Regions from separate parts of the Homo sapiens genome. Here regions 1 and 2 are each linked to region 3. The links come from fine-mapping of genetic effects on gene expression. A gene starts in region 3. Each other region holds a variant in brackets. All regions are shown on one strand. Distances are between the middles of the regions. Region 1 overlaps PILRB (paired immunoglobin like type 2 receptor beta). Region 2 holds the start of LOC124901841 (small nucleolar RNA U13). Region 3 holds the start of PTCD1 (pentatricopeptide repeat domain 1).

Region 1 (8,153 bases), 930 kb before region 3:
AGGACAAGGGACCCCCTGGCTGTCTGGGCAGGGCCTCGAGAGGGTGGCCCGCCCCACCTGAGGACCTGGCTGAAAGGTCACCTGCTTACCAGGCTGTCCAATGTGGGGGCCACATAGAACTTATAGCCAACAGCCTCTGGGTAGCTCTGGAGGGCACATGCTGCCCAATGCTGCCACGTGCAGTCTCCTTAGATGCAACATGCATGTTTATGTCACTTTCAGGCCCTGGATCCAGCTGAACCCCCATGGGAGATTCCTTCTGTGTCAGGATTTCTGCTCTGGGATGGTGTGAGGTCTCCTGGATTTGTTCATCCTCCCTCCCCCAACAGCAGTGACAGAACCTGGGACTGAGCCTGGGGCTGTGGCTCTCTCACAGACAGGGCTTCTGAGAGGAGGAGGAGGGCCTGGAGGAGGGCATGATTCCAATGTGGGCAGAGCCTAAATGCAGCCCCTTAGTGCAGGTGCTCATGGGAGAGGCGTGGGAAGTCGTGTGTGGGGAGCAGGGGCAGGGAGGGGGTAAGTACCCTGCACCGCATTATGAGAACCACTGCTTGGATGTCCCCACATTCCCCCAACAAGTATCCTACTGTCCTCACTGGCCACATCCGTCCCTGCCCCCAGCCCCTCACCTCTCCTTGGCACCCACCGTTCCTGCTTTCCTCTGATCCCAATCGACATCCCATAGGCTTTGTGGAGTTCACAAGCCAACTGTAATATTCTCACAGTAATTCAAAGGACCTAGAATAGCCAAAAGGCCTTTACAAATGAAGAATGAAGGTGGAAGATTTATAATACCTGACTTCAAGACTTGCTGTAAAGCTTCTGTAATCAGGCTGTACTGTCCTCAAGGTACTAGAGTGTCCACAGACTGGAGTGTAGGGACGCGATCACCATCACTCCTGGGCTGAAGCAATTTGCTGACCTCAGCCTCCCAAGTAGTGAAGACCACAGGCACACACCACCACACACGGCTAATTTTTTTTTTTTTTTGAGAGATGGGGTCTCACTATGTTGTCTAGGCTGGTCTCAAGTTCCTGGGCTTAAGCAATCCTCCTGCCTCGGCCTCCCTCAGTGCTGGGATGACAGGTGTGAGCCACCTCACCAAGCCCCACTGGATTGCTGATATTCTGGCATCTTGGACCTCCAAGAGCAGAGAGAGGGACTGCCCCTGCCAGAGCCAGCCAGTTGTTAGAGCTAGCAAATGACCCCTCTGAGAGTGTCCCTTTTTTTTTCTGAAACAGTCTCACTCTGCTGCCAGGCTGGAGTGCAGTGGCACGGTCTCGGCTCACTGCAACCTCCACCCCTGGGTTCAAGCGATTCTCCTGCCTCAGCCTCCCAAGTTGCTGGGATTACAAGTGCGTGCCACCATGCCCAACTAATTTTTGTATTTTTAATAGAGACGGGGTTTCACCACGTTGGCCAAGATGGTCTCCATCTCCTGACCTTGTGATCTGCCCACCTCGGCCTCCCAAAGTGCTGGGATTACAGGCTTGAGCCACGGCTCCTGGCTGAGTGTGCCTTTCATATGCAAACCAGCTAATCCAGGGCCCCAACACTGAACCAGCTCTTCTAGCTGCCTCTCACCCTTCAGAAGGCAGTATTTCTCTGCCTTCATCATCCTGGGCCAGACACCAAATAACAAATGACAGCCTCTAATCCCCAGAGCCTGCTAACGTTATTCTAACTAGCCAATCCTAAACCTGCATACCCTTCCTTGCCTTTTCCAGGGAAAGCATAACAAAGGGTCTCACCCCTGTGTTCCCTTGGCTTCCTCTACTCCCTGAGGGACCCTGGTGCTTTCCCAAGTGGCCCTGCATGGCTGTGTCTCTCGTTTCTGGGGATCTGTGAGGATACACTGCTTCCCTTATGACCCTCATTTCCATGGCCATACCTGATGGAAAGAAATGGCAGGTGCATTTTGTTTTATTATTATTATTATTTTGAGACGGAGTCTCACTCTGTCGCCCAGGCTGCAGTGCAGTGGCACCATCTCGGCTCACTGCAACCTCTGCCTCCCAGGTTCAAGCGATTCTCCTGCCTCAGCCTCCCGAGTAACTGGGACTACAGGTGCCCACCACTATGCTCACCTAATTTTTGTAGTTTTAGCAGAGATGGGGTTTCACCATGTTGGCCAGGCTGGTCTTGAACTCCTTACCTCAGGTGATCCACCTGCCTAGGCCTCCCAAAGTTGCTGAGATTACAGGCATGAACCACCGCGCCCTGCCAGCAGGTGCATTTGATTTATTTTTATTTTTTGAGACGGAGTCTCGCTCTGTCACCCAGGCTGGAGTGCAATGGTACAATCTCGGCTCACTGCAACTTCCACTTCCTGAGTTCAAGTGATTCTCCTGCCTCAGCCTCCTGAGTAGCTGGGATTACAGGCACGTGCCACCATGCCCGCCCGGCTACTTTTTGTATTTTTAGTAGAGATGGAGCTTTGCTATGTTGTTCAGGCTGGTCTCGACCTCCTGACCTTGTGATCTGCCTGCCTCAGCCTCCCAAAGTGCTGGGATTACAGGTGTGAGACACTGTGCCTGGCCCAGCAGGCGCATTTTAAAAGAGCTTTTAACTCTCTGGACAATCCCAGGAGGTAGGCAGCATCTCTGTATGGTCCTCAATTTATACAGAAAGAAACGGAGGCCCTGAGGGTGGTTCTGAGCCTAGCCTGAGGTCACATGGCCCAGGAACGTCCACTGTGGCATCAGGTCTGAGCTTGGGGCCTGTGCGGCCAACCACTTCCCCATTCAGTGACATCAGCCAGCAGTCCTCTGGGCCTCTGTGACAACCATGCTTCCCTTTTCTGTGTTGTCTTCCTTCTGCACAGGGAGGTGCTTGAGGGCTGGGGCACTGGCTGGTGTAGCTTTGGGTCCTTGTCACCCAGTGCAGTGTGCCTGTCACCCAGGGCAGTTAGTGCTGACCAAATGCGTATGGAGAGGGTGGAGGCATCTTCAAGGGGTGGGGATCAGGTGACGATCATTTTCAGTAGAGATGGGGTTTCACCGTATTGGCCAGGTTTTTTGTTTTGTCTTTTTTTTTTGAGACAGGCTCTCTCTCTGTCACCCAGGCTGGAGTACAGTGGTGCAATCACAACTCACTGCAGCCTCAGTTGCCACCTGAGGGCTCAATTGATTCTCCCACCTCAGCCTCAAAATGTGCTGGGATTACAGTCATGAGCCACTGTGCCTGGCCCAATCATGCCTTTATAATGAAGCCCATAAAAACCCAAAAGGGATGCAGAGGGCTTCTGGATAACTGAACTCATGGAGCTTCCTAGAGGGTGCAGTGCCTAGAGAAGACACGGAAGCTTTGCACCCCTTCCCCCAGGCCTCCCTCTGTGTATCTCTTATATCTGGCTGTTCATAACTATCCTTTGTAATATCCTATATCTTTATTTTGAGACGGGGTCTCGCTATGTTGCCCAGGTTGGTCTCAAACTCCTGTGCTCAAGTGAACCTCCCCCCTCAACCTCCTGAAGCACAGAGATTACAGGCATGAGCCATGGCGCCAGGCCCTATAATATCCTTTATAAGGGGACACATGTAAGTAAAGGGCTTCCCTGAGTTCTAGGTACCATTCTAGAAAATTAATTGAACCCAAGGAGGGGATCATGGGAACCTCAATTTTTATAGCCCTGTGTCAGAAGCACAGGCACCACGTGAGCTTGCGACTGGCATCTGATGCTGGGGCAGCCTTGTGGAACTGAGCCCTCAACCCGTGCGATCACAGGAAGCAGCCAATTTGCTGTAGTAGCCGTGGCCAACACACTGTCTCTGACAGTGTTCTTGCCCCTGCCCACTCCTTCTTAACGATTCCCTCTCAGCCAGGCATGGTGGCTCACGCCTGTAATTGCAGCTATTTGGGAGACTGAGGCTGGAGGATTGCTTGAGCCCAGGAGTTTGAGACCAGCCTGGACAACTTGGTGAAACTCCAGTACCACTAAAAAATACAAACATTAGCTGAGTGTGGGGGTGCACGCCTGTAATCCCAACTACTTGGGAGGCTGAGGCATGAGAATGGCTTGAACCCAGGAGGCAGAGGTTGCAGTGAGCAGAGATTGCGCCACTGCACTCCAGCCTGGGTGATGAGAGTGAGGCTCTGTCTCAAAAAAAAAAAAAAAAAAAAAAAAAGATTTCCCTTCTTAAACTTGCTTCCAACTGCTTTAAATCTGTGAGTGCCATCTGTTTCTAGTGGGGAGGCTCCCTGCATCATGACTGGACTCAGGTACTGCAGAGCAGGAAGGGGCACTTGGCAGCCATGTGGGAGATGCACAGGGAAGTGTCAGCAGCATTTCACGCTATTTATTCCCCAAAACCTTCTGCCATAGAAGACAGCCACCATACAGATTGGAAAATGTGGACGAGGAGAAAAGGGGTGTATGGTAAGCAAAATAAATTGTATTTTTCCATCCTTGGGGAGGATAAAGGAACTCTTTGCACTGCTATAATAAACAGCCCCCAAATGCCAGTGGTTTAATTCAGTGGAGTTCAGACCTCATTCCTATATCATTGCAGTGTGGATGCTCCTGGATGAAGGCTCTTGTAGGTAACTCTCCTCCAGTCGGTGATTCAGGGACCCAGCCTCCTTCTGCCTTGCGGCTTTGCCTTTTAAAGGTCCTCAGGGTGCTCTCCATGTATCTTGCCAATGGGGAACGAGTGTGGAGGACTCACAAGCGGGTCTCACATCACGTCCTCCGGGGCTAATACACATCCCTTCTCCCCACACTCTGTTGGTCAGAAGTCACTGCTTGGCGCCCTGCTACCTGCAGGAGGGGAAGTGTTTTTAGATGCAGGGCCAGGATTATTAGTGAGGCAGGCGAGGCAGTT[G/A]CTTCAGAGATCAGATTTAAGTGGGAGGTGGCAAAAACTCAGGAGAATTTGTGGCAGGCTGGGCTTGTGGGGTTCTTAGCAGCACAGTCCCTGATTTCCAAACCCGTCCCCTGCCCGCACCTGTACTCCCCACTCCCTTGGGGAGGCCCAGCACTCAGCTGGCTGGGGTTGTGGCTTTAGTCCGCTGCTGACGTGTAGGGGGACCAACAGTGAGTCAGGGTGGCATCCAGGTGATAGCAGTCTCCATCCCACCTTCTCTGCTGCGCCCTAGGCTGAGGCCCTCCTTAGAGGGACCAGAGCAGCAGATCAGCTCTGCCCAAACCCATCAGGAAGGGCCTGGGACTCAGCTGGCACCCTGAGGCTCCCCCCCGACCTGTTCTCCCTGTTGTCCACCACGTCATCTCCTGAAACCGCCCCCGCAAAACCTTGCTACCCTCTGTTGGCTTCCTTCGCTCTTGAGCTCTCTGCTCAGCCCCAACCTGGCTCCCTCTATCGCTGAGCCCTCGCCCACCCATCTCTTCCTTCCCTCCCCTTCCCTTGACATAGGCACCCCCACCTCTCCCTCCAGGTCCTCAGGGAGACCGCGCCTGTGGTTTCCTTCTGGGTGGCGGCTGTGTCTGCCCTCCAGCCTTGGGAGCCTCATGCTTGGGACTCATGTTTGTGGCTGTTCAAGTTCTGTTGCCACCTCTAGGCCTCCCCTCCCCTCTGGCTGGTCTCACCCTGAATCCTCTGCTGCCTCTCCCACTGTGCCCTGCCCCTCTTGTCCCCCTGGCATCCTTGCAGTGTTTCCCAAGCACTGGGCTCCTGGTCCACAGACATCCCCTCCACCATCCAGCCCCCTCCTGGGAGGGCTCCACGTCCACAGAGACACCCTCTGAACCCAGGCCTCACGGCACCCCTCAACTCCAGGGACCTCCCCTTCCACTTCTACAGGTTTTTTGTTTTTTAATGTTGGGACTGGGAACTCTGAAATATTAACTGCTAGTATCATTTTCATATTGCAACTTTCACTCCTTCCAGCCTAACACCTAAGGTGGGTGCGGTGGCTCACGCGGTGATAATCCCAGGATTGGGAGGCCAAGGTGGGCAGATCACCTGAGGTCAGGAGTTCGAGATCAGCCTGAACAATATGGTGAAAACCTGTCTCTACTAAAATTACAAAAATTAGCCGGGCGTGGTGGCATGTGCCTGTACTCCCAGCTACTCAGGAGGCTGATGCAGAAGAATTGCTTGACCCTGGGAGGTGGAGGTTGTAGTGAGCCAAGATCGCACCACTGCACTCCAGCCTGGGTGACAAAGCGAGACTCTGTCTAAAAAAAAAAAAAAAAAAAAAAACCACCTAGAATTTACCATCCTAACCATTGCTTAGTGTACAGTTTGGCAGTGTTAAGTGTATTCACATGGTTGTGAGACAGATCTCCAGAACATTTTCATCTTGCGAAACTGAAACCCAAAAGTTCTTTTTTTGAGACAGAGTCTTGCTGTGTCACCCAGGCTGCTATACAGTGACGTGATCTCAGCTCACTGCAACCTCCATCTCCTGGGTTCCAGTGATTCTCCTGCCTTAGGTTCCCGAGCAGATGGGATTACAGGTGCCCCCGCCACACCAGCTTATTTTTTGTATTTTTAGTAGAGACAGGGTTTCGCCATGTTGGCCAGGCTGGGCTCGAACTCCAGGCCTCAAGTGATCCACCTACCTCAGCCTTCCAAGGCATGTTCCTCACAGGCGTGAGCCACCACACTGGGCCAGTAAAACTGAAATTCTATGTTCTTTAAATATTAACTCTCCATTCTCATCTCCTCTGTGCCCCTGACAACCACCTTTCTGCTTCCTGTTTCTAGGAATCTGGCTACTCTAGATACCATGTAAGTGGAATCAGACAGTATTTATCTTTTTGTGACTAGCTTATTTCACTTAGCATAATGTCCTCAAGGCTCATTTATACTACAGCATGTGTAAGAATTTCCTTCCCTTTAAAGGTTGAGGCCAAGCATAGTGGCTCACGCCTATAATCCTAGCACTTTGGAAGGCCGAGGTGGGTGGATCCCCTGAGGTCAGGAGTTCGAGACCAGCCTGGCCAACATGGTGAAACCCCGTCTCTACTAAAAATGCAAGAAGTAGCTGGGTGTGGTGGCACACACCTGTGATCCCAGCTACTCGGGAGGCTGAGCCAAGAGAATCCCTTGAACCCAGGAGGCGGAGGTTGCAGTGAACTGAGATTGCACTGCTGCACTCCAGCCTGGGTGACAAAGCAGGACTTTGTCTCAAAATAAATAACTAAATAAAAAAGATTCAATAATATTATTTTTTTCAGAACTTTTTTTTTTTAATAGACAGGATCTTATACTGTCACCCAGGATGGAGTGCAGTGGCACAATCATAGTTCACTACACCCTCAACCTCCTGGGCTCAGGTCATTCTCCTAACCTCAGCTTCCCGAGTAGCTTGGACTACAGACACCGTATTTTGTTTGATGGACATTTCAGTTGATTCTACGTTTGGGGTATTTTGAGTAATGCTACTACAAACATCGGTGTGCAAACACCTCTTCCTGACCCTGCTTTCAATTGGTTGGATAGATGCCCAGAAGTGAGATTGTTGGATCATATGGTAGTTCTACTTTTAATATTGTGGAGGCTAAGGCAACTCCATCTTGGAAGCTAATCTGCCATGGCAGCTTCTGATTAACCCCAGTTCTGGGAAGGCCTCTAAGATTTCCAGTTGATCTATCGTTCTTGTGTAAGAGCAGGTACGTATCATAAATCCTGCCCTGGAGTCAAACAACCTTGATGTGATCATACTTCACCTGTAGAATACAAACCATCCTTCCCCTGTGGAATAAAAACCATGGGTCTGGGGATGATGGTGCAAGGACCCACCATCTTGTCTCATCACCCTATGTTTTCTCCTGTATTTTCTTCTAGACACTGGACAGTTTTGGGTCTTACATTGAAGTCTTTAATCCATTTTGAGTTAATTTTTTGGCAGAGATGCACCTTTATGTTTTGCATGTGAGTACCCAGCTTTCTCAACACCATTTGTTGAAGAAACTATTCTTCGTCGAGTGGTCATCTTGGCACCCTTGTTGAGGATCATTTGACTATCTATGTGAGGGTTTATTTGTGGGCTCTGTATTCTATTCCACTGCTCTATTTATGTCTTTTTTTTTTTTTTTGAGATGGAGTTTCACTCTTGTTGCCCAGGCTGGAATGCAATGGCGTGATCTTGGCTGACTGCAACCTCTGCCTCCCGGGTTCAAGTGATTCTCCTGCCTCAGCCTCCCGATTAGCTGGGATTACAGACATGCGCCACCACGCCTGGCTAATTTT
Region 2 (8,174 bases), 23 kb after region 3:
GTGCGTGTTCACAGCTTTTCTGCCCTGTCCTCTGCAGCCACCTGGAAGGGAAAATGGCAGCCACCAGCTTCCCTGAGGCCTGAGCCAGCTGCCGAGGTTTGGGATTAGCTGTAGGTAACAGGAGTGATTCTAGCCTCACTTTTCTAATTCTAGTACCAAGGGAAGAACACCTACCTGGAGAAGATTGACGGCTTCCGAGCCTATTACAAGCAGTGGCTGACAGTGATGCCCGCAGAGGAAACCCCGCACCCCTGGCAGAAGTTCCGGACCAAGCCCCAGGGGGACCAGGACACCGGCAAGGAGGCTGATGACGGATGTGCCCTTGGGGGCAGGTGATGGGAGCACAGCTGGAACAATGTGCTCGGCCCCCAGTGCTCTGTGGGAGCCCCAGGACAAGTGAGCTGGTGTCACCTCCTGCCTGGGGGAAGAGCCAGGCCCTGAGGAACAGCCGCAGCGTGTCACAGGTGTTGGTGAGGACACACACTAGGCCCAAGGTGCCTGTGCTCCCAGCAGGTCCAAGTGCAGCTCCAGCCACCTTTGCGTGTCACCTTCACGGGACTTCCAGCTCCAGCTACCTTTGTGTGTCACCTCACACACCACAAGGGGGCTGGGGCATCTGGTCCCTGGGGCCTGGGCCGCCCCGCCGGGTTCCATAGGCCGATGCTCTGAAAGAAGAGACGTGGGGCTCGAGAGATTTAAAGATTTTATTTTTACAAATCACAGCTGATAGACAGCGAAGCCTTCCCCATAGAGACCGTGCTCCAACTCGGGCCTGGGGCACTGCTCGCTGCTCCCAGGAAGGGGGTGGCGTGACAGGCAGGAACCTGCGAAGTCCAGAGTCCAGGGTGGAGCGCGCCAGCCTCAGCCAGAGCAGCCACGACAGCCACAGTGTGTGCACTCGATGATGCGGCCCTGCAACGGAGGAGGACAGTGAGACGATGCCACTGCGCCACGCTCGCCCCTGCACACTCACATATGTGGCAACCCTCCCACGAAGGACCTGCCACCATGCCATATAGGGACACACCTCAGAAACCCTTCCTTGACAGCTCTGGACAGGGAAAATTTGGCTCCCTCATGAAGGTAGAACCAGCTGCTGTTGACACCGAGGTTACATCTGTATGTCTATTTATAATATGTTCTGCAAATCCAACACACGTTTGCCAATCAAGAAAAAGAAATCGGTGTGAATGAGTCTCGTTATTCTGCTAAGTGAGCATGACAGACCCTGCGATGAGCAGACGTGGCTCTGCTACTGTTTGGGGACTTCAGGGGGGCCTCTGGGCTGGTACACTCTGGTGGGGGAAGAGGGCAGGAGACTATGCACTTGAGTCACACCCTTCTGGCCCAGAGCCCCCCAGAAAGAAGGGTCTTGTCCCCCAGGCCTGGTGCGGCCCAACACTTGGCCAGCCAGAAAGCCCTAGAACAGTGGCTTGTGTTTATTTTACTTTTTCAAGTTCTTTTTTTGGAAGAACAAGACCATAGTTTAAGTAAACAGGATCCTCTGGTGAAACCCAGGTAAGTCTACAGCGGGCTGTTTTGGCCACAGGGCTGAAGCAGCACCCCAGCCCACCAGCCCCTGACCTGGACTCCTTGTGGAATCTGGGCACTCAGAGGAAGGGGGCTTCTGCCACTCTGCCACCTGTCCCTGCCTCCATCAGAAAACCAACACCCCAGTCTTCCGTCGGGGAGGCGGCCCTTGCTCGCCCCCACTGCTCAGTACCCAAGTCCTCAGCATCCAGCCACAGCTCTCCATTGTCAGTCTCACTGCAGCATAAAGGGGACTCATGTGAAGAGGCCCCTGTGTGGAGCTGGGGAAAAGAAGGCCAGGCTGGCAGATGGGCGGTGGGGCCAACAACTGTGCTGAGGGGCTGCACTGAGCGGCCACTGCTGTGACTCTGCCTCGGGCCACAGCTGCCTTTCAGAGGGGCTTGGAACCGGATGGAGCTCAGCTCCTGTCCCTCAGCACCACTCCTGAGGCGCCTGGCCTAGGAGTGGTACTTGGAACAGAAAGTTCTGAAAGAAGAAACACAGTGGGCTGGGCGCAGTAGCTCATGCCTGTAATCCCGGCACTTTGGGAGGCTGAGGCGGGTGGATCACCTGAGGTCGGGAGTTCGAGACCAGCCTGAGCAACATTGAGAAACCCCGTCTCTACTAAAAATACAAAATTAGCCAGGCGTGGTGGTGCATGCCTGTAGTCCCAGCTACTCAGGAGGATGAGGCAGGAGAACCGCTTGAACCCGGGAGGTGGAGGTTGCAGTGAGCCAAGATGGCATCACTGCACTCCAGCCTGGGCGACAAAGCAAGACTCCGTCTTGGGGGGGCGGGAAAGATAGTGATGGTAATGTTAAAGTATCACTGTGAGGACTGAAAGGGACAGGAACTCACTGGTTGTCCTTCCCTGATGTCACCCTGCCACCACCTTGGGATTAGGGCTCCCCACCACCATTTCCTAAGTGAGGAAAGGGGTTCAGTAATTTGCCCAAAAGTGGAGTTGAGATTGACCCCAGACCTAACAAACACACAGCCACACGCTGCCTCACATGGATTCCTGAATACAGGGACCCACTCCCACGAGGGAGAGCCAGCAGGACATCCAGGGACAAAACGACATTCCAGCCCAACCAAATAACATAAGATCCCTTGCAGTCGACTAAGGCAGAATTTTGAGCTGAAAACAACACCAAGCTTGAGTGTCAGACATTACCACTTCCAGCTTGCTTTTGGGCACGCGGCAGATGCAGTTCGTCCCGAAGTTGGTGTCCCGTGTCTGAATGCACCGCAGGCAGCACAAGTTCTCATATCCTTGCTTTTTCCATTTTGCAATCAGGTTTTTGTCTGCATAGCCTTCTTTAATACAATATTCATAGAGTTCTGTCAAAAAGATGGGGAAAGAGCATCAGGCCATGGTCTAAAAACCTTCCCCACCCTTGATCAAAAAAAGCATTCAGGCCGGGTGCAGTGGCTCACACCTGTAATCCCAGCACTTTGGGAGGCCGAGGCAGGCGGATCACCTGAGGTCAGGAGTTCAGGACCAGCCCGGCCAACATGGTAAAACCCCGTCTCTACTAAAAATACAAAAATTACTCGGGCGTGGTAGCAGCTGTAATCCCAGCTACTTAGGAGGCTGAGGCAGGAGAATCACTTGAACCCAGGAG[G/T]CGGAGGTTGTAGTGACCTGAGGTCGTGCCACTGGACTCCAGCCTGGGTGACAGCGAAACTCCATCTCAAAAAAAAAAAGGCATTCAGTATTGCAACGGGACAGTCCTTGGAGGAGGAACAAAAAAAAAAAGTACTTAGGCCAGGCAAGGTGCCTCACACCTGTAATCCCAGCACTTTTGGAAGCCAACGCCAGAGGATCATTTGAGTTAAGAAACCAGCCTGGGCCAAGGGCCCATCTCCACAAAAAATTTAAAAATTAGCTGGGTGTGGTGGTGCACACCTGTAGTCACAGCTACTCAGGAGGTTGAGGTGAGAGGATCCCTTGAGCCCAGAAGGTTGAGGCTGCAGTGAGCCATCATTGCACCACTGCACTCCAGCCTGTGGAACAGAGCAAGACCCTGTTTCAAAAAAAAAAAAAAAAAAAAAGCCAAGAGCGGTGGACCACGCCTATAATTCCAGCACTTTGGGAGACCGAGTCGGGTGAATCACCTGAGGTCAGGAGTTCAAGATCAGCCTGACCAATATGGTGAAACCCCATCTTTACTAAAAATACAAAAATTGGCCAGGTGTGGTGGCAGGTGCCTGTAATCCCAGCTACTTGGGAGCTGAGACAGGAGAATCGCTTGAACCCAGGAAGTGGAGCTTGCAGTGAGCCAAGATTGCGCCACTGCACTCCAGCCTGGGTGACAGAGTGAGACTCCATCTCAAAACAAACAAACAAAAAACAAACACACACACAAAACTCAGCCAACGTTGGCTCCCCCTAATTTTCGTGGTAAGAAAAACCATGACTTGCACAGGTTGCGAGAATAAGGATTGTGGTTAGTTCAGTAACTCCAAAAGTGACGCGAGCTTCAAAGTCCAAGAGAGACTGACTAATTACCTCTGCTGATGGCTTTCCGCTTGTAAAAGAGGTCGAAGATGTAGCGGGTTTTCTGGTGGTGGATCCTGAAGATGGGCCACAGAGATTCCACTTTCCTCTTTCCCTCATGCGGTTCTGTTTCAGCTGGGGAGAAACAAAGAGTGTGTTTGGGGGAATAGGGTCGGTCTGCGCAGGATTTTCTTTTTGTAAGTAACTACTGATAATGAATAAATACCACTTTATACCCACTAGGATGGCTGTGGGTGGCAAGCCACCCAGGTGCCGAGGCAAGAAACCGAGGGCACGAGCTGTTCTAGTATAATAAAATAAATAAAATAAGAATAGTTATACTAGATATAGATCTTAGATATGATTATATATGAATATCATTAATCCTTAGTTTGTAGCAATTACTCTTTATTCCAATATTATAATAATCCTCACTCGACAATCATAACCTAGGAAACACCAGGCTATACAGAGATGGGAGCTGAGGGGACATAGTGAGAACTGACCAGAAAACGAGTGCAAGCCTTCTGTTATGCCCGGACAGGGCCACCAGAGGGCTCCTTGGTCTAGCGGTAACGCCAGCATCTGGGAAGATGCCCGTTGCCAAGCGGACCTTGGTCTAGCAGTAGCGTTAGTGTCAAGGAAAAACACCCGCTACTTAGCAGACCGGGAAAGGGAATCTCCCTTTCCCCGGGGGAGTTTAGAGAAGACTCTACTCCTCCACCTCTTGTGGAGGGCCTGACATCAGTCAGGCCCGCCCGCAGTTATCCAGAGGCCTAACTATCTCCCTGTGATGCTGTGCTTTGGTGGTCACGCTCCTAGTCCGCCTTCATGTTCCATCCTGTACACCTGGCTCTGCCTTTTAGATAACAATAGCAAATTAGTGAAAGTACTAAAAGTCTCTGATAAGCAGAAATAATGGCATAAGCTGTCTCTCTCTCTCTGCCTTGGTGCCAGGCAGGCAAGGGCCCGCTTTCCAGTGGACACGTGACCCATGTGGCCTTACCTATCATTGGAGATGGTTCACACTGCTTATCCTGCCCCTTTGTCTTGTATCCAATAAATATCAGTGCAGCCTGGCATTTGGGGCCACTACCGGTCTCCGCGTCTTGGTGGGATTCCCAGGCTCAGCTGTCTTTTATCTCTTTGTCTTGTGTCTTTATTTCTACGCTCTCTCGTCTCCACACACGGGGAGAAACCCACCGACCCTGTGGGGCTGGACCCTACAGATGACTATAATCAAAATTATGGCACAATAACAAGTGTTGGGAAGGATGTGGAGAAATTGGAACTCTCCTACGTTCCTGGTGGGAATGTAAAATGGTGGAGCCACTGCAGAAGAGTTAGGTGGCTCCTCAAGAAGTTAAACAGGGCTGGCCGGAATCGGTGGCTCACACCTGTAATCCCAGCACTTTGGGAGGCTGAGGTGGGCAGGTCACTTGAGGTCAGGAGTCTGAGACCAGCTTGGTCAACATGGTGAAACCCCATCTCTACTAAAAATACAAAAGAATTAGCAGGGCATGGTGGCGCATGCCTGTAATCCCACCTACTTGGGAGGCTGAGGTGGGAGAATCGTTTGAACCCAGAGGCGGAGGATGCAGTGAGCTGAGATCACACCACTGCACTCCAGCCTAGGCAACAAAGCAAGACTCCCGTCTCAAAAAAAGAAAAAAAAGGGAATGAAGTAAGTACTGATATATTCTACAACACAGATGAACCTTGAAACATCAAACTAACTGTGGCAATGGTCGTACAACTTTGTGAATATACTAAAAACCCCTTAATTGGATAATTTAACAGGTTCACTTTTACAGTATATGATTAATATCTCAATAAAGCTGTTATTTAAAAACAGAATAAGCCGCCGGGCATTTTGGGAGGCCAAGGTGGGCGGACCACGAGGTCAGGAGATCGAGATCAGCCTGACCAACGTGGTGAAACCCCATCACTACTAAAAATTAAAAAATTAGCCGGGCGTGGTAGTGCACGCTTGTAATCCCAGCTTCTCAAGAGGCTGAGGCAGGAGAATTGCCTGAACTCGGGAGGTACAGGTTGCAGTGAGCCAAGATCGCACCACTGCACTCCAGCGTGGGCAACAGTGTGAGATTCCGTCTCAAAAAAAAAAATAAAAAAATAAAAAATAAGCTAAGTAATTTAAACATAATTGTTTTAAATTAAAAATGTCTATTTTTGGATCCTTTTGTAATTCATGAGTGTGCTTGGGTGTTCACATCCATGTGTGAGACATGCCACTCTCAAACCTTGTCACAACGTTGGCACATTACCCATGTGACAAGAAAAAAAGTCTTTTTAATTACAGAATTAGAAAACATAGATTTTTAAAGACATTTAATGGTAACTTCTGTTAAAAGGTTGGTCCCGGCTGGGCACAGTGGCTCACGCCTGTAATCCCAGCACTTTTGGAGGCCGAGGTGGGTGGATCACTTGAGGTCAGGAGTTCGAGAACACCCTGGCCAACAGGGCAAAACACTGTCTCTACTGAAAATACAAAAATTATCTGGGCATGGTGGCACATGCCTGTAATCCCAGTTACTCGGGAGGCTGAGGCACGAGAAGTGCTTGAACCTGGGAAGCAGAGGTTGCAGTTAGCTGACATTGTGCCACTGCACTCCAGCCTGGATGACAGATGACCCTGTCTCAAAAAAAAACAAAACAAAACAAACAAAAAAAAGCCAAAAAACCAACCTTGGTCCCTATGCTTTCAGATCTATTTCTACAGCGTAATAATTAATCAAGATAATTCTAGGCCCACAGATGGGCATCCTAATCATCTTGAAGGCACTTCTAATTTCATCTCCCAGCCAAAGTCCTTTAGGGCTGAGGAAAAGCTAAATAAACTAGACCAGTCTACAGGTTCTGAGGGAAGTAGCCACAGCAGAAGCTGCTCCTTCAACACACGCAGGATCAGGTGGCACTCATACTTGCCGCAAGGCAGTTCTCTCTCTCTCAGCAGTCACAAGTTCATCTTTGTCTATGACCTCCTCAGTTTTTAGGGAAGAACAGAAGGGCGAAGAGTGGTCAAGAAGACTATCCCTCCCTGTCTCCAGCTTTTAAGCCATTCTATTACCTAGGAATTACAATTCAGCTCAACAAACAGAATGCTGTGATCCAAGCAGAAAAGCAGGTAGTAAAGATTCAGCAGGTACACATGTTAAGACGTGACTTGCTCCTCCTTGGCCTCTGCCATGATGGTGAGGCCTCTCCAACCACATGGAACGGTAAGTCCATTAGATCTCGTTCTTTCGTAAATTGCCCAGTCTCAGGTATGTCTATCAGTAGCGTGAAAATGGACTAACACACCCCCATCTCTACAAAAAATTAGCCAAGCGTTGGTCGGGCGCGGTGGCTCATGCTTGTAATCCTAGCACTTTGGGAGCCTGAGGCGGGTGGATCACAAGGTCAGGCGATCGAGACCATCCTGGCTAACATGGTGAAACCCCGTCTCTACTAAAAATACAAAAAAAAAAAAAAAATTAGCTGGGCATGGTGGCGGGCGCCTGTAGTCCCAGCTACTCCAGAGGCTGAGGCAGGAGAATGGTGTGGACCTGGGAGGCGGAGCTTGCAGTGAGCGGAGATCGCGCCACTGCACTCCAGCCTGGGTGACAGAGCGAGACTCCGTCTCAAAAAAAAAAAAAAGAAAAAAAAGAAAAGAAAACTTAGCCAAGCGTGGCAGTGGATGCCTGTAGTCCCAGCTGCCTGGGAGACTGAGGTGGGAGGAACACCTGAGCCTGGGAGGTGGAGGCTTCAGTGAGCTGTGATTGAACCACTGCACTCCAGCCTGGGCAACAAAGTGAGACCTTGTCTCAAAACAAAAACAAAAAGAAAACAGAACAAAGAATACTTCTGTCTGGAGGTAAAGAATATCTAAACACAAAGTAGGGTTCCTCCTTCCCTCAAAAGTCACCCTTTAGAAGATGAAGTTAATTTACTTTCAAGGACTTGCAAAATCTCTTCTATTCCAGCATGCTCCCATTTCCTTTATTTTGATAAAGAGCTGTTTCGGGAAGACATCTCTCAGCCCAAAATGACCGTGATTACTGCAATAGGCCCATCCAAATCTAAACTGCAAAACAAGTACTGAGTATTTAATAGAAGTTATCTGGTACGAACAGTTTTTTTAAAA
Region 3 (8,174 bases):
CTTATCCACAGACTCCAGGCATATCTTGAAGAACATGCTGAAGAGGAGGCAAATGAAGATGTACTAGGAGATGAAACAGAAGAAGAAAAAAACCCCTTGTCAAATAGGAAGAACCCCCTGAAAAAAACTGTTGATGTGGCAGCAGAGAAGAAAGTGGTGAAAATTACATCTGAAATACCACAGGCTGAGAGAATGCAGAAGAGGGCCGAACAATTCAGTGTACCTGTGAGCTTGGAGAGTAAGAAAGCTGCTCAGGCAGCTAGGTTTGGGATTTCTTCAGTTCCAACAAAAGTCTGTCATCTGAACACACCTATGGTTAACTTGGATAAGCCGAAGGAAAGAGCTCAAAGATTTGGTTTGAATGTCTCTTCAATTTCCAGAAAGTCTGAAGATGATAAGAAACTGAAAAAGAGGAAGGAGCGATTTGGGATTGTCACAAGTTCAGCTGGAACTGGAACCACAGAGGATACAGAGGCAAAGAAGAGGAAAAGAGCAGAGCGCTTTGGCATTGCCTGATGAAAGGTTCTTGATACTTTCTGTTCTCCAGTGTTTTCCACTTCTCTCATTCTTCTTGGTCACATATATACTAAATGCAGTCTTGCCTTGCAATGAGGGAGCAGGTACCCCAGGTAAAACTGTGAACTGCCGCGGCAGTTTGACTTATTGCTGTTTCAGCTTTAAGGTTGTTGTGTTTTTGTTTTTGATTATATTGCTTGTTTTTTGTTTTTTTTTTTTTTTTTTTTGAGACGGAGTCTCGCTGTTGCCCAGGCTGGAGTGCAGTGGTGTGATCTCGGCTCACTGCAGGCTCTGCCCCACCGGGGTTCACACCATTCTCCTGCCTCAGCCTCCCGAGTAGCTGGGACTACAGGCACCCGCCACCTTGCCCAGCTAATTTTTTGTATTTTTAGTAGAGACGGGGTTTCACCGTGTTAGCCAGGATGGTCTCGATCTCCTGACCTCGTGATCCGCCCGCCTCGGCCTCCCAAAGTGCTGGGATTACAGGTGTGAGCCACAACGCCCGGCCGATTATGTTGCTTGTTAATAAAAAAGAAAAGAAAAGAAAAAAAAAGCACAGCCTTTCATTCCCACAGTCGGAGTGTGCTGGAATTCAGTGGGCTCCAGGGACCAGCTGTTCTGATGAGTCCAGGAATTCACCAGCCCCAGCTGCCAGACTAAACTGACCTTGGCATCAGAAACAGTTTCCTCTACAAGTAACCATTTTAGAATTGCTGAAAAACCAATGACAGCATCTCTGAAGCCCACTTAACATGCCTCCCCTTGCTAAATCACAAAAGATTCCTTGGCTTCTTGGAAGCAAGCAGATTTTGCTAGGACACAGCTGAGGTTATAGAACTTATGGCTGTCACAGGGAGGTCACTCCATTTGCATCTCAAAAAGTCTGAAAGTGGCCAGGTGCGGTGACTCACGTCTGTAATCCTAGCACTTTGGGAGGCTGAGGCGGGTGGATCACTTGACATCAGGAGTTCAAGACCAGCCTGGCCAATATGGTGAAACCCCATCTCTACTAAAAATGCAAAAATTAGTCAGACATGGTGGCACGTGCCTGTAATCCCAGCTACCTGGGAGGCTGAGGCAGGAGAATCACTTGAACCCAGAGGCAGAGGTTGCAGTGAGCCAAGATCGCGTCACTGTGCTCCAGCCTGGGTAACAGAGCAAGACTCTGTCTCAAAAAAAAAGAAAAAAAAAATTCTGAAAGTACTTCTGGTCTCTCTCTTTAGAGGTTAGAGTTGCTTCTGCTCAGAAATACACAGTTCTGGGAACTGAGTCTCATGTGGATAGGATGAGTATGCCTTATGGGCAAAGTGACAGTTCTTCCCAAAACTCAGATGGGGATGAAGAGGAGGGATGGGTGAGGAAGGGCTGTGGCCTCACTAGGCTTTAACTGAACAGGATATGGACAAGCAGCGAGTGTGGAGGGTGCCTACCGACTCTGAAGCCCTGGCTGGAGCAACACCCATGGCTAGGTGTGTCCCGGGCCTCAGGAACAGGTATGTGGGCCCCTCGCCACTGTACCTCCCCTCACAGGCTTGTGGATGTGTCAGATGGCAGAAGGGTGGGAGGAAAAGAGCTGCCCTGCGTGGGTGGTTCCATGGTCTCAAGCTAGTGCCATCAAGACAGGAAAAGGCCGGCTGGGCACAGTGGCTTATGCCCGTAATCCCAGCACTTTGGGAGGCCGAGGCAGGTGGATCATTTAAGGTCAGGAGTTCAAGACCAGCCTGGCCAACATGGTGAAACCTCATCTCTACTAAAAATACAAAAATTAGTTGGGCGTGGTGGTGGGCGCCTATAATCCCAGCTACTCAGGAGGCCAAGGCAGCAGAACTGCTTGAACCTGGGAGGTGGAGGTTGCAGTGAGCCGAGATCGCACCATTGCACTCCAGCCTGGGTGACAAAAGCAAAACTCTGTCTCAAAAAAAAAAAAAAAAAAAAGACAGGAAAAGGCCACATGTGCAGGGATGATCACAAGAGTCGAGGGGTAGGTAAGAGGGGGTGTGTGTGTGTGAATTTGAGCAGCTGCTTTTTAGGGAGTGTACAGTGGTGATGGTGTTTGTGCCTGTGTCAAATAGGGTGGTCTGATGATGTCTCCTTATAAGCACTATCTTGTCTTCTTGAAGACTTAATTAATTTCCAATGAAACTATCTTGTACAGAACTATCACCATGTAAAGTTGTGGGACAGGCAGGAAAAAAAAAAAAAAAAAAATATATATATATATATATATGCCAGGTGCAGTGGCTCATGCCTATAATCCCAGTACTTCCGAAGGCCGAGGTAAAAGGATCACTTGAGCCCAGGAGTTCAAGACCAACCCTGGGAAACATGATGAAATAGTGTCTCTACCAAGAAATACACACAAAAAAATTTGCCAGGCGTGTTGGTGCATGCCTGTGGTCCCAGCTACTTGGGAGACTGAGGTGGGAGGATTGCTGGAGCCTGGGAAGTCGAGGCTGCATTGAGCCATGATTGCGTCACTGCACCCAGCCTGGGCGACAGAGGGGCCCCTGTCTCAAAAGCAAACAAACAACAACAACAAAAACACATAAAGGGACAGACTCAGAGGTCACATGTGCATGAGAAGGTGTGACCGCCTGAGGGGAGTGAGGCTGCTGGGAGCGGTGGGAGACCCCGCTGGTAGTTGTGGGCGACAGCACACAACACTGGAGAGCTTGCCCGCCTCTGCTATGCACTGAGTGATTGTCAGCAAGTCCCTTCCCCCGCTTGGGTCTCAGTTTCCCCATCTGTGGATTGAACTCAGTGACTTCCACAAGCCCCCAAACTTTAAGGTTATAGCATTAGATTTCAAGTATGTCCAGATAGGAAAGAAGACACAAAGAAAACTACTGGTTTCTTTTAAAGTACAAGATATCCCACCGAGTAGGAGGTGGGAAGCCAGGAGCCACCATATGAAGGGGAGCAGTGAAGGGAGTTCAGGCCAAGGGTCCACACCAGCTGCTGGGTGTGATGAATAACTCAGAGTTGGGGTCCAGAAAAAAGTAGGGACGGGCCAAAAACTAGGGATGAGCTCCCAGGAGAGTGAGTCCTAGAAGGGAGTTTGAGAGTCTAGCTGGGGTCTCCTACAGAAAGGTGGTCCTTCCCTCAGCACATCTCCTCCAACCGCCTAGTTTTGATGAAATCAAGAAGAGACGCTCAACGTAGCGGGTGTGATATCCTAGTACTCTCCTGCAGTTGGGAGAGTGTTGAGGGAGAGTTCCAATCCAGGATAACCCACCCTTATTCAAGAATTAAGCGAACAGACAAGGTCTACCCTCCTACAGATTACCTTTGAACAGCCGCAGAGGGCCAAAGATCCGAGGCAGTGAACTCCTGAGTCCGAGTGAGGGTAAAAGGAGTCCCCAGACGGTGGAAATGGGGGCCTGGGAGTCAGGAGTCCTGAAACCAAGGGGAGCGTCCCGGGATCCAGAAGAGGAGGTCTCAGGATGGAGTGGGAAGAGTCTCGGGACCACAGATGAGGGAGTTCGGTAACTAAAGGGGAGGATCCCAGGACCCGGAGGAGGTGGGAGGGACTCTCAAGACCTAGAGGGAGGAGTCCTGCGACCAAAGGGGAGGGGTCCCAGGATCCAGAGGAAGCCGGGGGAGGTCTCAGGACCGAGGCGAGGGAGTCCCGGGATCACAGAGGAGCGGGTCCCGGGTTCGAGTCGCTCTTGCCCTCCCGCCCGGGCCCCGCGCTCACTGTCCATGCCGGGGAAGGGCAGCGGCTGCGCCCCCAGCTGCTGCTCCACCGCGATCTCCAAGTCAAACTTGATGTGGTCCACGCTGGCGATGATTTCCTGCATGGCGGCGGCGGCGGCCCCACCGGCCCGGCTCCCCCTCGGTCTCCTGCAGCCTTCTCGCCTTTACCCGCCGCCGGCCCCGCCGCACACACTCCTCCTTCGCTTCGCCTCGCCGCCGCCGCCGCCGCCGCCCGAGGGATGCCGGGAGCGCCCGGAGCCCGCGCCGGCCCTTGCGCCTGTCCAGGCACTGCCAATCGAGACTCCGCCGTTCCGCTAGTCCCAGCTAGCCGCCAGCCGAACACCGGCCTCGCCAGAAACCTGAAACCAGCCGCGTGAGTCGGCGACGCGGATTGCGCCTGCGCGCTTGGGGAGAGGGGGACCCGAGGAAGAGACTGGTTCGCCGCGGGGACCGGGCAGGGCTCCCCGTCGGAGTGCACTGCGCCGGACACTTCAAGTGAGTTCCTGTGTGATCCTCGCAGGAGCCCCGGGACCCGGGCCAAGACACGCCAGAGGGGAAGGAAGTGCCCGAGCCGGGATTGGAGCCGGGGGCGTCTGAGGAGGGAAACTGAGGCTGCAGAAGTCCGTGTGGAGAGGGGTCGGCGTTGGCCTGAGGGTCCGGGTGGGCCTCTGAGGAGGGGCGGGTCTCTCCGAGGAAGGACGGCCGCAGCGTGTCTCTAATTCAGGGTTTTTTCTCGCTCTGTGGCCCAGGCTGGAGTACAGGGGTACGATCATAGCTCACTGCAGTCAACTTCTCAGACTCAAGCGATCCTCCCACCTCAGCCTCCCGAGTAGCTGGAACTACAGACGCTGCACCACCACACTTGGCTAATTTTTAAAATTTTATTTTTAATTTTTGTAGAGACGGCGGGGTTGGGGGGGCGGGTGGCGGGTCTTGCTATGTTGCCCAGGCTGGTCTCGAACTCCTGGCCCCAAGCCCAAAGCGATCCTCCTGCCTGGGCCTCCCAAAGTGCTGGAATTGCAGGCATGAGCCACTATACAGCCTAATTCAGGGTTTTTTTTAACCAGGGTGGGGTAATGAGCTTGTGTAGGAACAAAATGCACCCCTATTTTTCTCTATGTGAAGTATAGCATTTCCTTTCCTGATTGCTGGAGCAGCCTTAGCAGTGCCTGAAACTGTGAGGGTGAGTGTAAATGATAGTTCCAGATAACAGTTTGTGCAGGGCCAGGCATGGTGGCTCACACCTGTAACCTCAGCACTTTGGGAGTCTGAGGCGAGAGGATCACGTGAGGTCAGGAGTTCGAGACCAGCCTGGACAGGATGGCAAAACCCCGTCCCTACTGAAAATATAAAAATTGGCCTGGAGTAGTGGCGCGTTCCTGTAATCCCAGCTACTTGGGAGGCTGAGGCATGAGCATGGCTTAAACCCGGGAGGCAGAGGTTGCATTGAGCCGAGATTGTACCACCCCACTCCAGCCTGGTGACAGAGTGAGACGCAAAAAAACCCAGTTTGTGCAGCAACTACAAGGTGGTATCTTAAGCTGTCACTTACATTTATTACTGCTTTGAAATTATGATAGAGTCGGCCGGGCGCGGTGGCTCACGGCTGTAATCCCAGCACTTCGGGAGGCCGAGGCGGGCGGATCACAAGGTCAAAAGATCCAGACCATCCTGGCCAACATGGTGAAACCCTGTCTCTACTAAAAATACAAAAATTAGCTGGGCTTGGTGGCATGCGTCTGTAGTCCCAGCTCCAGGGGAGGCTGAGGCAGGAGAATCGCTTGAATCCGGGAGGCGGAAATTGCAGTGAGCCGAGGTCACGCCTGAGGACAGAGTGAGAGACTGTCTCAAAAAAAAAAAAAGAAAAGAAAAGAAATTATGATAGGGTCTTGTTATTTCATGCATTGAAAATAAGCATCTATACTAGTATAGCAGAAATTTGTTTTTAAAGCATTTTGATGCCATTTCAATATCATTGCTTTTTGTTTTGTAATTCTGTGTATTGTAATTAATGCACGTAAGGCAGGGCATGGAGGCTTACGCCTGCAATCCCAACACTTTGGGAGGCCAAGGCTGGAGGATTGCTTGAGGCCAGGAGTTCTAGACCAGCCTGGCAACATAGGGAGACTCCATCTCTACAAAAAAATACAAAAAATTAGACAGGTATGGTGGTGTGCACCAGTAGTGCTAGTTAATTGAGAGGCTGAGGTAGGAGGATCACTTGAGCCCAGGAGTTGGAGGTTGCAGTGATTGTGCATTTGCACTCCACTGTGCCATCGCACTCCAGCCTGGGCAACATGAAGACCCCATTCCACAAAAAAGAAAATTACATAAACACCATGCTTGTAAGAAGGAGTGGCAGGGCTTGCCAGATGCAGAATGATAAAGGCCCCCTGCACTAGTTTCACAAAAGGTGCTGGTCAGGACAATCATCAATGCGTTACATGGACCTGAGTTCAAAGCCAGCCCAGCCCAAGCTGGCCAGTCTCACCCACTGCACTGCTGCAGGACCCCAGCAAGTCTCTCCCCTTGCTGGGCCTAGTTTTTTGTTTGTTGTTGTTGTTGTTGTTTTGAGATGGAGTCTTGCTCTGTCGCTCAGGCTGGAGTGCAATGGCGCGATCTTGGCTCACTGCAACCTCTGCCTCCCACGTTCAAGTGATTCTCCTGCCTCAGCCTCCCAAGTAGCTGGGATTACAGGGGCACGCTGTCACGCCCAGCTAATTTTTATATTTTCGGCAGAGATAGGGTTCACCACGTCAGGCTGGTCTCGAACTCCTGACCTGAGGGGATCCACCCACCTTGGCCTCCCAAAGTGCTGGGATTACAGGCGTGAGCCACCGCTCCTGACCTACTGGGCCTAGTTTTTAATCTGTTCAATCTGCCATCACTTGTAAGACTTTTCCAATCGCAACCTTCTAATATAACCAGACTCTAAAATACTTTAGGCTGGGCATGGTGGCTCATTGCTGTAATCCCAGTGCTTTGGGAGGTCGAGGCGAGAGGATTGCTTGAGTCCAGGAGTTCAAGACCAGCCTGGGCACATAGCAAGACCCTGTCTCTACCAAAAAATAAAATTAGCCAGGCATAGTGGCTCACACCTGTAGTTCCAGCTACTCGGGAGGCTGAAATGGGAGGATCGCTTGAGCACAGGAGGGTGGGGCTGCAGTGAGCTATGTCTGACCTGAACCTAGGCTTTCTAACCTCTGGGCCCATACTTCTTATTTTATTTATTATTATTATTTTTTTTTTTTTCTGAGACAGAGTCTCACTGTCACTCAGGCTGGAGTGCAGTGGCGCGATCTCAGCTCACTGCAAGCTCCGTCTCCTGGGTTCAAGCGATTCTCCTACCTCAGTCTCCTCAGTAGCTGGGATTAGACGTGTAGCACCACACCCAGCTCATGTTTTTTGTATTTTTAGTAGAGATGGGGTGTCGCCAGGCTGGTCTTGAACTGATCTGCCCGCCTCGGCCTCCCAAAGTGCTGGGAGTGCAGGCATGAGCCACCGCCCCTGGCCTGTTCTTTTTCTTTCTTTCTTTTCTTTTTTTTTTCGAGACAGAGTCTCACTCTGTCACCCAGGTTGGAGTATGGTGGCGCAATCTCAGCTCACTGCAAGCTCCATCTCCCAGGTTCAGGTGATTCTCCTGCCTCAGCCTCCTGAGTAGCTGGGATTACAGGCGCACAGCACCAAGCCTGGCTAATTTTTGTATTTTTCATAGAGACGGGGTTTCACCATGTTGTCCAGGCTGGTCTCAAACTCCTGACCTCAAGTGATATGCCAGCCTCGACCTCCCAAAGTGCTGGGATTACAGGCATGAGCCACCGCGCCTGGCCTGGGCCCATACTTGTAACCACTTCTTTCTTTCTGCCTTTTGTTACTAGGAACTGAGTTGACTCTCTTATTTTTCCTGATATATTCCAGGCCCTGGAGGGACAGGAAAGCCAGAAATGGACTTCGTGAGACTC

What was found. PIP is the estimated chance that this variant, and not a neighbour inherited with it, causes the effect.
Region 1: its variant is fine-mapped to the expression of PTCD1 in whole blood (TOPMed, PIP 0.90).
Region 2: its variant is fine-mapped to the expression of PTCD1 in whole blood (INTERVAL, PIP above 0.99).

Annotation. Positions count from the first base shown.
Region 1 is chr7:100,363,955-100,372,107 of GRCh38, reverse strand. PILRB (paired immunoglobin like type 2 receptor beta) reads right to left here. Exons shown (of 4, transcript NM_178238.4): 4 at 4,277-4,759. The coding sequence ends at 4,731. STAG3L5P-PVRIG2P-PILRB (STAG3L5P-PVRIG2P-PILRB readthrough) reads right to left here. Exons shown (of 17, transcript NR_036570.1): 17 at 4,277-4,759. It also overlaps a transcript of PILRA not described here. Among named protein-coding and RNA genes, the nearest start is that of PILRA, 5.5 kb to the left of the region's middle. RefSeq lists enhancers at 953-1,704, 5,314-5,393, 6,244-6,293, 6,314-6,363, 6,394-6,553. The variant G/A (reference allele first, on the strand shown) is at 4,824.
Region 2 is chr7:99,412,129-99,420,302 of GRCh38, reverse strand. It overlaps BUD31 (BUD31 spliceosome associated protein), which reads right to left. Exons shown (of 6, transcript NM_003910.4): 4 at 4,043-4,165; 5 at 2,708-2,874; 6 at 687-912. The coding sequence ends at 862. It overlaps ATP5MF-PTCD1 (ATP5MF-PTCD1 readthrough), which reads left to right. Exons shown (of 9, transcript NM_001198879.2): 9 at 154-3,564. The coding sequence ends at 336. It overlaps PTCD1 (pentatricopeptide repeat domain 1), which reads left to right. Exons shown (of 8, transcript NM_015545.4): 8 at 154-3,564. The coding sequence ends at 336. LOC124901707 (a long non-coding RNA gene) reads right to left here. Exons shown (of 2, transcript XR_007060451.1): 2 at 8,008-8,114. It also overlaps LOC124901841. RefSeq lists a silencer at 4,621-4,670. The variant G/T (reference allele first, on the strand shown) is at 3,159.
Region 3 is chr7:99,435,225-99,443,398 of GRCh38, reverse strand. PTCD1 (pentatricopeptide repeat domain 1) reads left to right here and starts at 4,601. Exons shown (of 8, transcript NM_015545.4): 1 at 4,601-4,707; 2 at 8,131-8,174. The coding sequence starts at 8,157. It overlaps ATP5MF-PTCD1 (ATP5MF-PTCD1 readthrough), which reads left to right. Exons shown (of 9, transcript NM_001198879.2): 3 at 8,131-8,174. It overlaps CPSF4 (cleavage and polyadenylation specific factor 4), which reads right to left and starts at 4,456. Exons shown (of 8, transcript NM_006693.4): 1 at 4,214-4,456. The coding sequence starts at 4,316. It also overlaps the pseudogene LOC100131859. RefSeq lists silencers at 4,162-4,461, 7,960-8,107 and enhancers at 4,722-5,011, 6,308-6,833.